Linked DNA regions of Homo sapiens: region 1 is linked to region 2. The links come from fine-mapping of genetic effects on gene expression. A gene starts in region 2. The other region holds a variant in brackets. All regions are shown on one strand. Distances are from middle to middle. Region 1 overlaps SLC37A3 (solute carrier family 37 member 3). Region 2 holds the start of SLC37A3 (solute carrier family 37 member 3).

Region 1 (5,381 bases), 47 kb after region 2:
AGGTGGATCACGAGGTCAGGAGTTCAAGACCAGCCTGGCCAACATGATGAAACCCTGTCTCTACTAAAAATACAAAAATTAGCCGGGCGTGGTCACGGGCACCTGTAATCCCAGCTACTCCAGAGGCTGAGGCAGAGAATTGCTTGAATCCAAGAGGCGGAGGTTGCAGTGAGCCAAGATCATGCCATTGCACTCCAGCCTGAGTGACAAAGCGAGACTCCGTATCAAAAAAAAAACAAAACAAAACAGTGTGCTAAGTGAAGACAGCAAGGGTGCAAAACTGTGTATTGAATGCCATTTATGTAAGAAGGAAGAATGAAAGAGAATATGCTTGTATTAGCTTGTATGTTTCCAAAACAATTTCTGGGCAGTAAAAATGAACAACAATGGTTATATGTTGGGAAAATCGGGAGAATTGAGCAGATGGGGAAGGTGGGGTAGGAAGGAGAGTTTTTACTGTACTTTCTTTTTTTTTTTTCCAAGACAGAGTCTCACTCTGTCACCTAGGCTGGAGTGCAATGGCGTGATCTCAGCTCACCGCAACCTCCTGGGTTCAGGAGATTCTCCTGCCTCAGCCTCCCGAGTAGCTGGGATTACAGGTGTACGCCACCACGCCTGGGTAATTTTTGTATTTTTAGTAGAGATGGGGTTTCACCATGTTGGCCAGGCTAGTCTTGAACTCCTGACCTCAGGTGATCCGCCCACCTCGGCCTCCCAAAGTGCTGGGATTATAGGTATGAGCCACCGTGCCCAGCTTGACTGTACCTCTTATTCCTCTGTTGCTTGAATCATGTGAATATATTACCTACTCAAAAACCTAAATTATTAAAGGTAAGTTCGCTCTTTTAAAAGGTAGATACATTTTTAAACAGCTCACCAAGAATTTTGGTGTAGTTAGGGTCAGTGAGAAGTCCTTCATTCCCTTCATTCATGGCCACCTTTATTCTAGGCTTCTTAGCCTCACACCTGGATTGTATAGTTGGTTCAGATGAAAATTTCAGTTCACCTTCTGAGCTGCTCTCAGATTTGACTTCTGGAAACACTAATTTTGTCACTCATCGGTTTAAAAATTCAGTGTCCACATCAGGTTCCATTCTCTGTTAAATAAAAATTCAGCTGTGCAGCCTGGGGGTTGAGAGTCTTTAATCTAGCTGTCACCTTTCCAAATCAGTTTTCTTCCTGATTATCCCCTAGCAGAAGCCCTCTCCTTGAGTCGTGCAGTAAGCTTTCTATCTCCTTCCACCCTGTGTCTTTGCTTACCGTGTGCCTGGAAAGATGGGCAATTGACTTTGATTTTCCATTCTTCCCTAAGACATTGTCTTACTGCTTCAACCTCTTCAGCTCTTTCCTTCATCTGGATTCCCGTATATGTTTCTCAGTAGGATTGGGCCTTCTCATCTATTCAGCTTCTTGGTGCTTTATAATATTGTTTCATGTATTTAATCCCCTCAACTGTATGTAATATCTTTGAGGGCAGATACTGTCTTTTATGAGAGGCTATGTGATACAAAGACCTAGATTTTTGGAGCTAGTCTAATTTCACAATCATAACAGTACCACTTAGTATCCAGGGGAGCTTCATTCTCCTCTCTGAGCCTCATACAATCACCAGGAAGAATTAAATGAGAAAACACGAGTAGAACACTTTGCATGGCGCCCGGCCCAGTAGAAGCTCTGGGTGCTCCCTTGCTTCCCGGTCTCCCTTCCCACCTCTCCCCCACCCCCACCTTCCCCCACACACCTTTAATGAATGTGCTTGTGATGACTGTCCCCAGATATGTAAGGACCACCTTTCACCCCTCTCCTCCAGTATGCCTTTCTGGTGACGGCGTCTGTGCAGTTTGCTGGTGGGATCGTTATCTTCTTTGGACTCCTGGTGTCACCAGAAGAAATTGGTGAGGAGAAGCCGCCCCTTCTATTCCGAATGTCTTACTATTATGGCCGAAAGGAAATCTGAGGCCAAGAAATCGAATCTCTTTTTTCCTAGGAAAACTCTGAGCTCCTTTTAGTGAGTGAAAGGAGAACAGTACTGCC[G/A]TTTGAGTCCTGTCGACATTGTAGCCAGCCCCTGGCACAGCTGGACGTGTTTGAGGGGAGTGATGCACGTCTTTTATAGATACAGGAAAATCTTCGCATTTGCAAATTATTTTTATAATTGAGACACTGGCAAGGAATGAACATAGATGTATTTCTGATTTCACTTCTTGAAACATTTCTTTTCATCCATAAAAATGATGCACAAAAAAGATACTTAACCTGTAGTTAAATACAGATTACATACAAATGAAACCACAGAAGCAAACAGATGTACAATTCTTCTATCTTTTGAGTATTTTTAGATAGACTGTGTGACTTTAATTGACCTTAGTTGACCTCGGTCTCTGGACCTTCGTTGCTGCTTCTGTAAAATGGAAATAAAAATAACATCACCTCATAAGTAGGGATGTATGCAGAGCCCTTCACACGTGGTAGGCACTCCATAAACAGTGGCTGTCGCTGTTATTTTAGGTCTCTCGGGTATTGAGGCAGAAGAAAACTTTGAAGAAGACTCACACAGGCCATTAATTAATGGTGGTGAAAATGAAGACGAATATGAGCCGAATTATTCAATCCAAGATGATAGTTCTGTTGCCCAAGTCAAGGCGATAAGCTTCTACCAGGCATGTTGCCTTCCTGGAGTCATACCGGTAAGGACCGCTTACATCTTACCACAGCCAGGGAGGTATGAGAGCCCGTGACATCTCCTCTGCCTGAGATAAAGCTTCCTTAAGTATTGAGCCTCTGTTGGATACTTTATTTTAGGAATATACGTGCTGAGGAATGTTGTCTAGTGCCCCTCAGCTTATCTGATCTCTAATGCAGGGGTTGACAAACCTTTTCCATGAAGAGGCAGAGAATAAATATTTTTGACTTCGGGGAACCATCCAGTCTCTCCCCCAACTACTCAGCTTTGTAGAACAAAATAAGCCACAGAAAACATGGGACAGTTAGACGTGGCCAGACTTGGCCAAAGAGCTCTGCTTTCCTGACCCTGATCTGGTATGTGATTAAAAAGGCAAAATTGATAATTTTTAATGTGTGCTTTTGGGCCTTTCGAAGTATTATAGAATTATATGTGGACCAAGAAGAAGGGTTGTGAATGGTTCCTAAGTCTGCCTTGCCCCCTTTTATTTTTTATTTATTTATTTATGATTTTGGGACGGAGTGTCGCTCTGTCACCCAGGCTGGAGTGCAGTGGCGCAGTCTCGGCTCACTGCAACCTCTGCCTCCCGGGTTCAAGCGATTCTCCTGCCTCAGCCTCCCGAGTAGCTGGGATTACAGGTGCATGCCACCATGCTTGGCTAATTTTTTGTATTTTTAGTAGAGACAGGGTTTCACTGTGTTAGCCGGGATGGTCTCCATCTCTTGATCTCATGGTCTGCCCACTTTGGCCTCCCAGAATGCTGGGATTACAGGCGTGAGCCACCGCGCCTGGCTTGCCCCCTTTTAAAGGGTCCAGAAGAGAGCACTCCACAGTCTTTCTTGGTAATGCATTCCAGTGTTTTCCACAGCCTGTGCAGTCAGGAAAGCCTTCTAACGTCTACACTAAATCCCTTCTGCTGCAGTTTTTCTGTCTTGATGTTTCGGGCACTCTAGCACTGGAGTGGAAGTTAAGAGGCCTAGGTTATGTTTCCAGCTTACCCACTAACTTTCTGTGACACCTGGGGTGAGTCACGCAACCCGTCCGTGTGTCTCAGTTCCCCTTCCCATGGAATAGAAATTATTCCACTCTTCCCTGGGGCCTGTAACATTGGGCTGTTGTGTTTTGAACAAGCACCTGTTGTTATTTCATTTGTCAATGGTGCTTTATGAATGTGATCCCTCAGGTAGAGTGATCTGTAGGCCATCTTAATACATGCCTGTCAATCCCCTTCTGTCAGTGCCTCCAAGCTGAGAGAACTAACATTTCCAACAAAGTTAAGTATGAATTAAAATGTAATTTTCCACAATTCTTTAACCCAGTGATGATATATGATATAAGAGAAATGCAGGTTGCTTTAGACCTGTTCTTATGCTATTGATTATTATCTTTTAACTGGTTTTTAAAGTACTCTGCTGGTAATAGTTTAATTTTTGAGAAAGAACTTTGTCGTGACTAAATATGGACCTCTTTTGCTGTTCCTTTGTTCTTCACAAGCTATTGTTCTCTGACATGGGCAGGGATGTAAAGGAAATCTAGTTAACTTAATTCCTTTGTCTTTGTAGCAGGCTGTCTGGTCAGAATGCACTCGTGATTGGGATTTGGCTCTCTAGGGGGTGGCTGTTGCCTGCCAGGGAAGCTGTTTTAAAACAAGTGATACCTAGGGAATAACTGGCAGCTCCAGGGAAAAGAATATACTAGCCAGACACCCTTTGAAGTCAGCCCCTCTGTCCCCCCCCCCTTTTTCCTTTGATGCTGAATGTCAGGATTTCCTGGTAGTAATGTGTTGAATATAGGAGTCTCAGCCCCACCACCATCTTCATGCAGCTGCAGCATTTTTTTCCCCTCAAGGGAGAGCCACGAGGCCGATGATGACATGTTCTTTCATTTTTGACTCGCCAGAGAGACTCTCTTCTTTGCCACCAGACCAGGGAATGTGGAGCTTTTGAAAACTAGTGTGAAAGGAATTATCATGCTGCTGCTTTTCTTAGACCGTGGAACTGTAGTGTAGTCCCTTTGCTGTCCATTGTTCACAGTGTTGCCTTGGCAAGGAGTAGAATAACCAACCCCGTTTGGCTGCTCCCAGTAAAGGCCGTGATGCTTCCTGGACTTCTTTGCCTATGGTTAACGCTGGTTAGTGGCATGAATACCATTCCTCTTTGTGTGAATAAAGAAATATGGGTATGTGCTCTGCCTTATAGGTTCAAAACACTGGCTTGCTTCTACCAGAGAACTGATAGGAGGAGAAACTGGACACAGCTAAGAAGTAGCCATAGGTGTTTTTTATTCCAAAGGCCTGCTGTACATGCCTGTCTAGAAGTTAACAGGGATGAAGAGCAGAGGGAGACTAGCTGAAGTCAGGCATGTGGGAGTTTGTAGAGATGTTTAACTGTAAAATCAGGTTCTGTTCATCCTAACTTCCTTTATTTTGTTTTGCTTTTAAATGACATTAAAAATGGTAGTCGTGCTGTGCTATTTGTCCCTCGCTGATAGTTGAATGCTTTTCTTGTAGTACTCACTGGCCTACGCCTGCTTGAAGTTAGTGAATTACTCCTTCTTCTTCTGGCTCCCCTTTTATCTGAGTAACAACTTCGGCTGGAAGGAGGCGGAAGCCGACAAGCTGTCCATTTGGTACGACGTTGGAGGGATCATAGGTATGCCGGTGATACATCTTTTCCATAATAAAGAGTTAGTCACTAGTGAT
Region 2 (5,381 bases):
ATACATTGTTGTGCAACCAACATCACCATCCATCTCCAGGACTTTTTTGGCATCCCAAACGGAAACTCCATAGCCATTAAACAACAATTTCTCATTTCCCCTTCCCTCCAGCCATGGGCAACCACCATGCTACTTTCTGACTCTATGAATTTCACTACTCTGGCTACCTCATATAAGTGGAACTGTACTGTACTGGTCCTTTTATGTCTGACTTATTTCACTTAGCATAATGTTTTTGAAGGTTCGTCTATGTTGTAGTATGTGTCAGAATTTGCTACCTTTTTTAGGCTGAAAAATAAACGATTCACAATATATTTTTAAAAATAAAAGTAACATATTTGGCTCATTTATTTTTGCTCACCCTGACATCATATTTCTCCTTGGATGCCTAGAGACAAAACTACCACTGTATAAGGGCTAGAAACAAAACTACCACTGTATAAGGGCAAATAAAAATGAAAAATAACAGGCTTAATTCCTCTGCTGAAAATAAAGAGACTTCTCAGCCTTCTCTCTGTTCCTTCAAAATTTCTTTCTCTGTCCTTTTCGAATGTACACAAATCTTTATAACGGCGAAATGAGCCTCTTGCCAGTATCACAACTCAGAAATGTATCCTCAAGGACTTGGGGGTCATCTTTTTGAAATTCAGACGTGAGTTAGTGCCTGTATCTTCCAGTTCCTACATGAGGGTAAGAGACTAAATTAGTGGGTATGGGCGCCTTGCTCCAATTTGTAAAACTACCTCCTGCTATAAAGATATGCGAACTTTGGCCGGCTGCGGTGGCTCACACCTGTAATGCTAGAACTTTGGGAGGCCAAGGAGGGCAGATCACGAGGTCAGGAGATCGAGACCATCCTGGCTAACACGGTGAAACCCCGTCTCTACTAAAAATACAAAAAAATTAGCCAGGCGTGGTGGCGGGCGCCTGTAGTCCCAGCTATTCGGGAGGCTGAGGCAGGAGAATCCCTTGAACCCGGGAGGCGGAGCTTGCAGTGAGCTGAGATCACGCCACTGCACTCCAGCCTGGGTAACAGAGCAAGACTCCGTCTCAAAAACAAAAAACAAACAAACAAAAAGATATGCGAAGTTTAAAAAACGAACAACAACAACAAAAAGTTATGCGAAGTTTGTTTTGCTTCTGGATAAAGCCAACATGAGTGGTCTCCCCAATTACTACTATTAAGTAAGGAGGAACTATGTTTGACAAAAGGTGTTGTCAAGTTCTGTTATTTGAAGACTAGTGATTGTTTATCTTGAGAACAGGTATGTAATGGTTGTTGTGGAGATTTTCTGGATTAAGAGAAGTTTTTTTTCTTTAAAATTCGAACAAGTGTCTGTATTTTTTCCCTTTATTTAAGAAACGGTGGCGGCGGTGGTGGTGGTGGATGGGGGGCGGCTCTCACTACCTTGCCCAGGCTGGTCTCAAACTCTTGTTCTCAAATGATGCTCCTACTTCGGCCTCCCAAAGTGTTAGGATTACAGGTGTGAGACACTTGTGTTGGATTTTTTTTTTTTGGAGGCAGGGTCTCGTTCTGTTGCCCAGGCTGGTGCAGTGGAGCAATCACAGCTGCCAGCCTCAAACTTTTGGGCTCAAGCGATCCTCGCACCTCGGTCGCCCCAGTAGCAGGGACCACAGGCACATGCCACTACTCCTGGCTAATTTTAACATTTTTTGTAGAGATGGGGTCTGGCTATGTTGCTAAGGCTGGTCTTGAACTACTGGGTTCAAGTGATCCTCCCTTCTCGACCTCCTAAAGTGTTGGATTACAGGCGTGAGCCCACTGTGCCCGGCCTGCATTTAATTAGACACCTAAAATTTAGGCCGGTCAGTAGCACACTTAGCAGCACGTTACTTTTTATAAAAACAAAGACCGAATACCGCTTTTTTGAAAAAAAAAAAAAAAAAAAAAAAAAAAGGATGCACCAGTTCTCCCCATATCATTTCTTCTCTCTACCTCTCGTCTTTTGCAGCTAACATTACTGGCCAGGTCCGCAGCAGCAGAGTTCTGTGGGCTCCCAGCCTCCGCCCTCCTCGCCCTCCTCCGCGCCGGCAGGTGAGGCCGCGTGGCGGGACTACAACTCCCAGCGTGCCCCGCGACGGGAGGGTCACGTGGGCGTCCGGAAACCCTGGTCGCACCGCCAGGGGTGAGCTGGCGGCGGGGGAGGCGGGCAGCGGAGCCAAGCTGACCCGGCGAGCGGAGCCGGGGCTGGAGAGCGGCGACCACTGCGGATCTCGGGTGCGCAAGCGGTGATGCGTGGGGCCGAAGACCTGCTGGGGCGGGGGCGGGTCCAATCCGAGGGGCTTCCCGGGTCGGGAGGGCGGTGGGGAGATGTAGGTGGCGGCCCCCCTTGGGTGGGGCGCCCAGGCAGGGTCGGCCGCTCGCCCCCTCCTTCTCCTCCCTGGGCCCGGGCCTGGGGTCCCGGCCGTCACGGGGAGGCTGCGATGGGGTGGATGGGGAGGAGAAGGACCCCCGGGGGACCCTGCGGCCCGGCCCCGATCCATGCGGCAGAGGCTTTTGTGCTCCTCGCCCGCCTGTCCTCCGGCCGTGGGTCTGGGAGATTCTGACTTGATCAGAAAAGGGCTTGTCGTTCGGACCAGGGGAGAGGGGATGCTTTTCAGGTAGGTGGGGAAGGAAGCTCTTTGGAAAGGATGTATAGAGGTCAGAGAAGAAGCGTGGTCTCAGTGAGTGACTGGTTTTGTTTTCTGGTAACTAGCATGAACTCAGTCAAGGAATTTGGTCAAATTATTCGTCATTCCCTCCTTATTCTTCGCAGGGTGTGTTCTGTTTATTCTCAGTTTTGACAGGAGATAATGGGAATGTGTCCCCGGAGTTTTTAGTGTTTTTTTGAAATGTAAGATGGTAGGCTATCTCGTGGTAACTCTTACTGAAAAGTTTATAGTTTATAGGGAGGAGTGGTTCCTGGGGTGAGCAAAATCATTCAGTTGTTATCTTTTTGTCCACCGGTTTATTTCTACCTTTACACAAATTTATACATACATAAATATATATAACAGTTGTTGAAGGGAATGTCTTCAGTGCTTTGGTGCTTAAATGATTTCTTTTCAGTTTGTTTGATGTTTCTTGGATACTAGGCTCTATACTAAGAACTCCATATAAATTATCTCATTTAATTAATACATGAGGAAATTGAGCTTCGGGTTGGGCGCGGTGTCTCATGCCTGTAATCCCAGCACTTTGGGAGGCCGAGGCCTGTGGATTCCTTGAGGTCAGGAGTTCAAGACCAGCCTGGCCAACATGGTGAAACCCCGTCTCTACTAAAAATACAAAGATTAGCTGGGCGTCGTGGCGCATGCCTGTAATCCCAGCTACTCGGGAGGCTGAGGCAGGAGAATCGCTTGAACCTGGGAGGCGGAGGTTGCAGTGAGCCGAGATCACACCACTGCACTCCAGCCTGGGTGACAGAGCCAGACTCTGTCTTTTTTTTTTTTGAGACTGAGTTTTTGTTCTTGTCGCCCAGGCTGGAGTGCCGTGGCACCATCTCGGCTCACTGCAACCTCCGCCTCCCGGGTTCAAGTGATTCTCCTGCCTCAGCCTCCCGAGTAGCTGGGACTACAGGCGCCCGCCACCACGCCAGGCTAATTTTTGGATTTTTAGTAGGGACGGGGTTTCACCATATTGGCCATGATGATCTGGATCTCCTGACCTCGTGGTCCGCCTGCCTTGGCCTCCCAAAGCGCTGTAATTACAGGCGTGAGCCACTGCGCCCGGCCTCAGACTCTGTCAAAAAAAAAAAAACAAAAAAAAAAACAGAAATTGAGATTCAGAGAAGCTACTTTTAAGTGGAGGGTCTTAGATTCCATACCTGGCTTGTCTCTTGAATGACACCATTCTTCTATTAGTGTTTGATTTCGAGTCTCTGCCTAAGAAGGTGACCCGGAAACAATACTTTTATAAAAGTTAAGTCAACAGTATCTTGCTGCTTTCTAGCTGTCAGGATCAACTGCCTTGTTCATTGTTTAAGGTTCTGATTTGTGCTCTGTTCATCAGTGTTAATGTCATGTCACTGCAGTGACCATTAACTTGATTATAAATCCTTTGGTAGAAGAGGGAAAGATTTTTATCTTGAAAACTAGTTGTCTTTGGAACATGTCCAAAAACAGGGAGGAAGAATGTGGTTTTGGAAACCCTGGAATAAAATGAGAGATATTTACAGATAAATGCCAAGTATTTTATGCCTGTGGTAATGAGATAATTTAAGAAGAGATAAAAATTACAGGAAGACGGATGAATTAATGAATAAAAAGGATTTATGAGGTTCAAGTAAATGGCTTCGTATGAGATAATGTGGGATAAAAAAGATACTTGTGGCTGGGTGCAGTGGCTCATGCCCATAATCCTAGGGCTTTGGGAGGCTGAGGCAGGAGGATCTATCTCTTAAGGCCAGGAATTTAAGACCAGACTGGTTAACATAGCAAGACCCTGTTTCTACAAAAACTAAGAAAATTAGCCAGGTGTGATGGTGCCCACCTGTAGTCCCAGCAACTTTGGAGGCTGAGGCAGGAGGATCGCTTAAACCTAGGAAGGAGATTGAGGCTGCAGTGAACTATGATCACGCCACTGCACTCCAGCCTGGGTAACAGAGTGAGACCCTGTCTCTGAAAAAAAAAAAAAGATAGTTGTATGAGTGTGAGCATTGAGACGCTAAACTGCAACATATACAATACTGTAAAAATGGTGAACTCAACTATACATTTAATAATTTCCCACATTCTTCTTTACACTTTGAAAACACATAATCTTTTTACTGTGCAGACATAAAAACTGAAGTCTGGGAGGTGAGTAATTGCCCATCTAATGCCCCTCTCCTTTGAGTGTGTAAGAGAACCACTCTTACCAGTAAGATGTTTTTTTTCCCCATCCTTGGTATATACCTCTGAGTTTAGGTGTGCTAGTTCTTTTATTTATTTATTTATTTATTTTTTGAGACAGAGTCTTGCTCTGTTGCCCAGGTTGGAGAGCAGTAGGGGGATCTCGGTTCACTGCAACCTCCGCCTCCTGGGTTCAAGCAATTCTCCTGTTTCAGCCTCCCAAGTAGCTGGGATTACAGGCACCCACCACCACACCTGGCCAATTTTTGTGTTTTTAGTAGAGACAGGGTTTCGCCATATTCGCCAGGGTGGTCTAGAACTCCTGACCTCAAATGATCCACCTGCCTTGGCCTCCCAAAGTGCTGGGATTACAGGTGTGAGCCACCGCACCCAGCCTATTTTTATTTTTTTATAGCTCTTTTTTTTTTTTTTTTTTTTTTTTAATTTGAGATGGAGTCTCGCTTTGTCACCAAGGCTGGAGTGCAGTGGCACCATCTCAGCTCACTGCAGCCTCCGCCTCCCGGGTTCAAGCAGTTCTCTGCCTCAGC

The links.
Region 1: its variant is fine-mapped to the expression of SLC37A3 in transverse colon (GTEx, PIP 0.92).

The regions. Positions count from the first base shown.
Region 1 is chr7:140,348,576-140,353,956 of GRCh38, reverse strand. It overlaps SLC37A3 (solute carrier family 37 member 3), which reads left to right. Exons shown (of 15, transcript NM_207113.3): 8 at 1,811-1,895; 9 at 2,506-2,684; 10 at 5,190-5,331. Among named protein-coding and RNA genes, the nearest start is that of SLC37A3, 47 kb to the left of the region's middle. The variant G/A (reference allele first, on the strand shown) is at 2,035.
Region 2 is chr7:140,395,274-140,400,654 of GRCh38, reverse strand. It overlaps SLC37A3 (solute carrier family 37 member 3), which reads left to right and starts at 2,125. Exons shown (of 15, transcript NM_207113.3): 1 at 2,125-2,239. RefSeq lists silencers at 1,978-2,207, 2,318-2,587.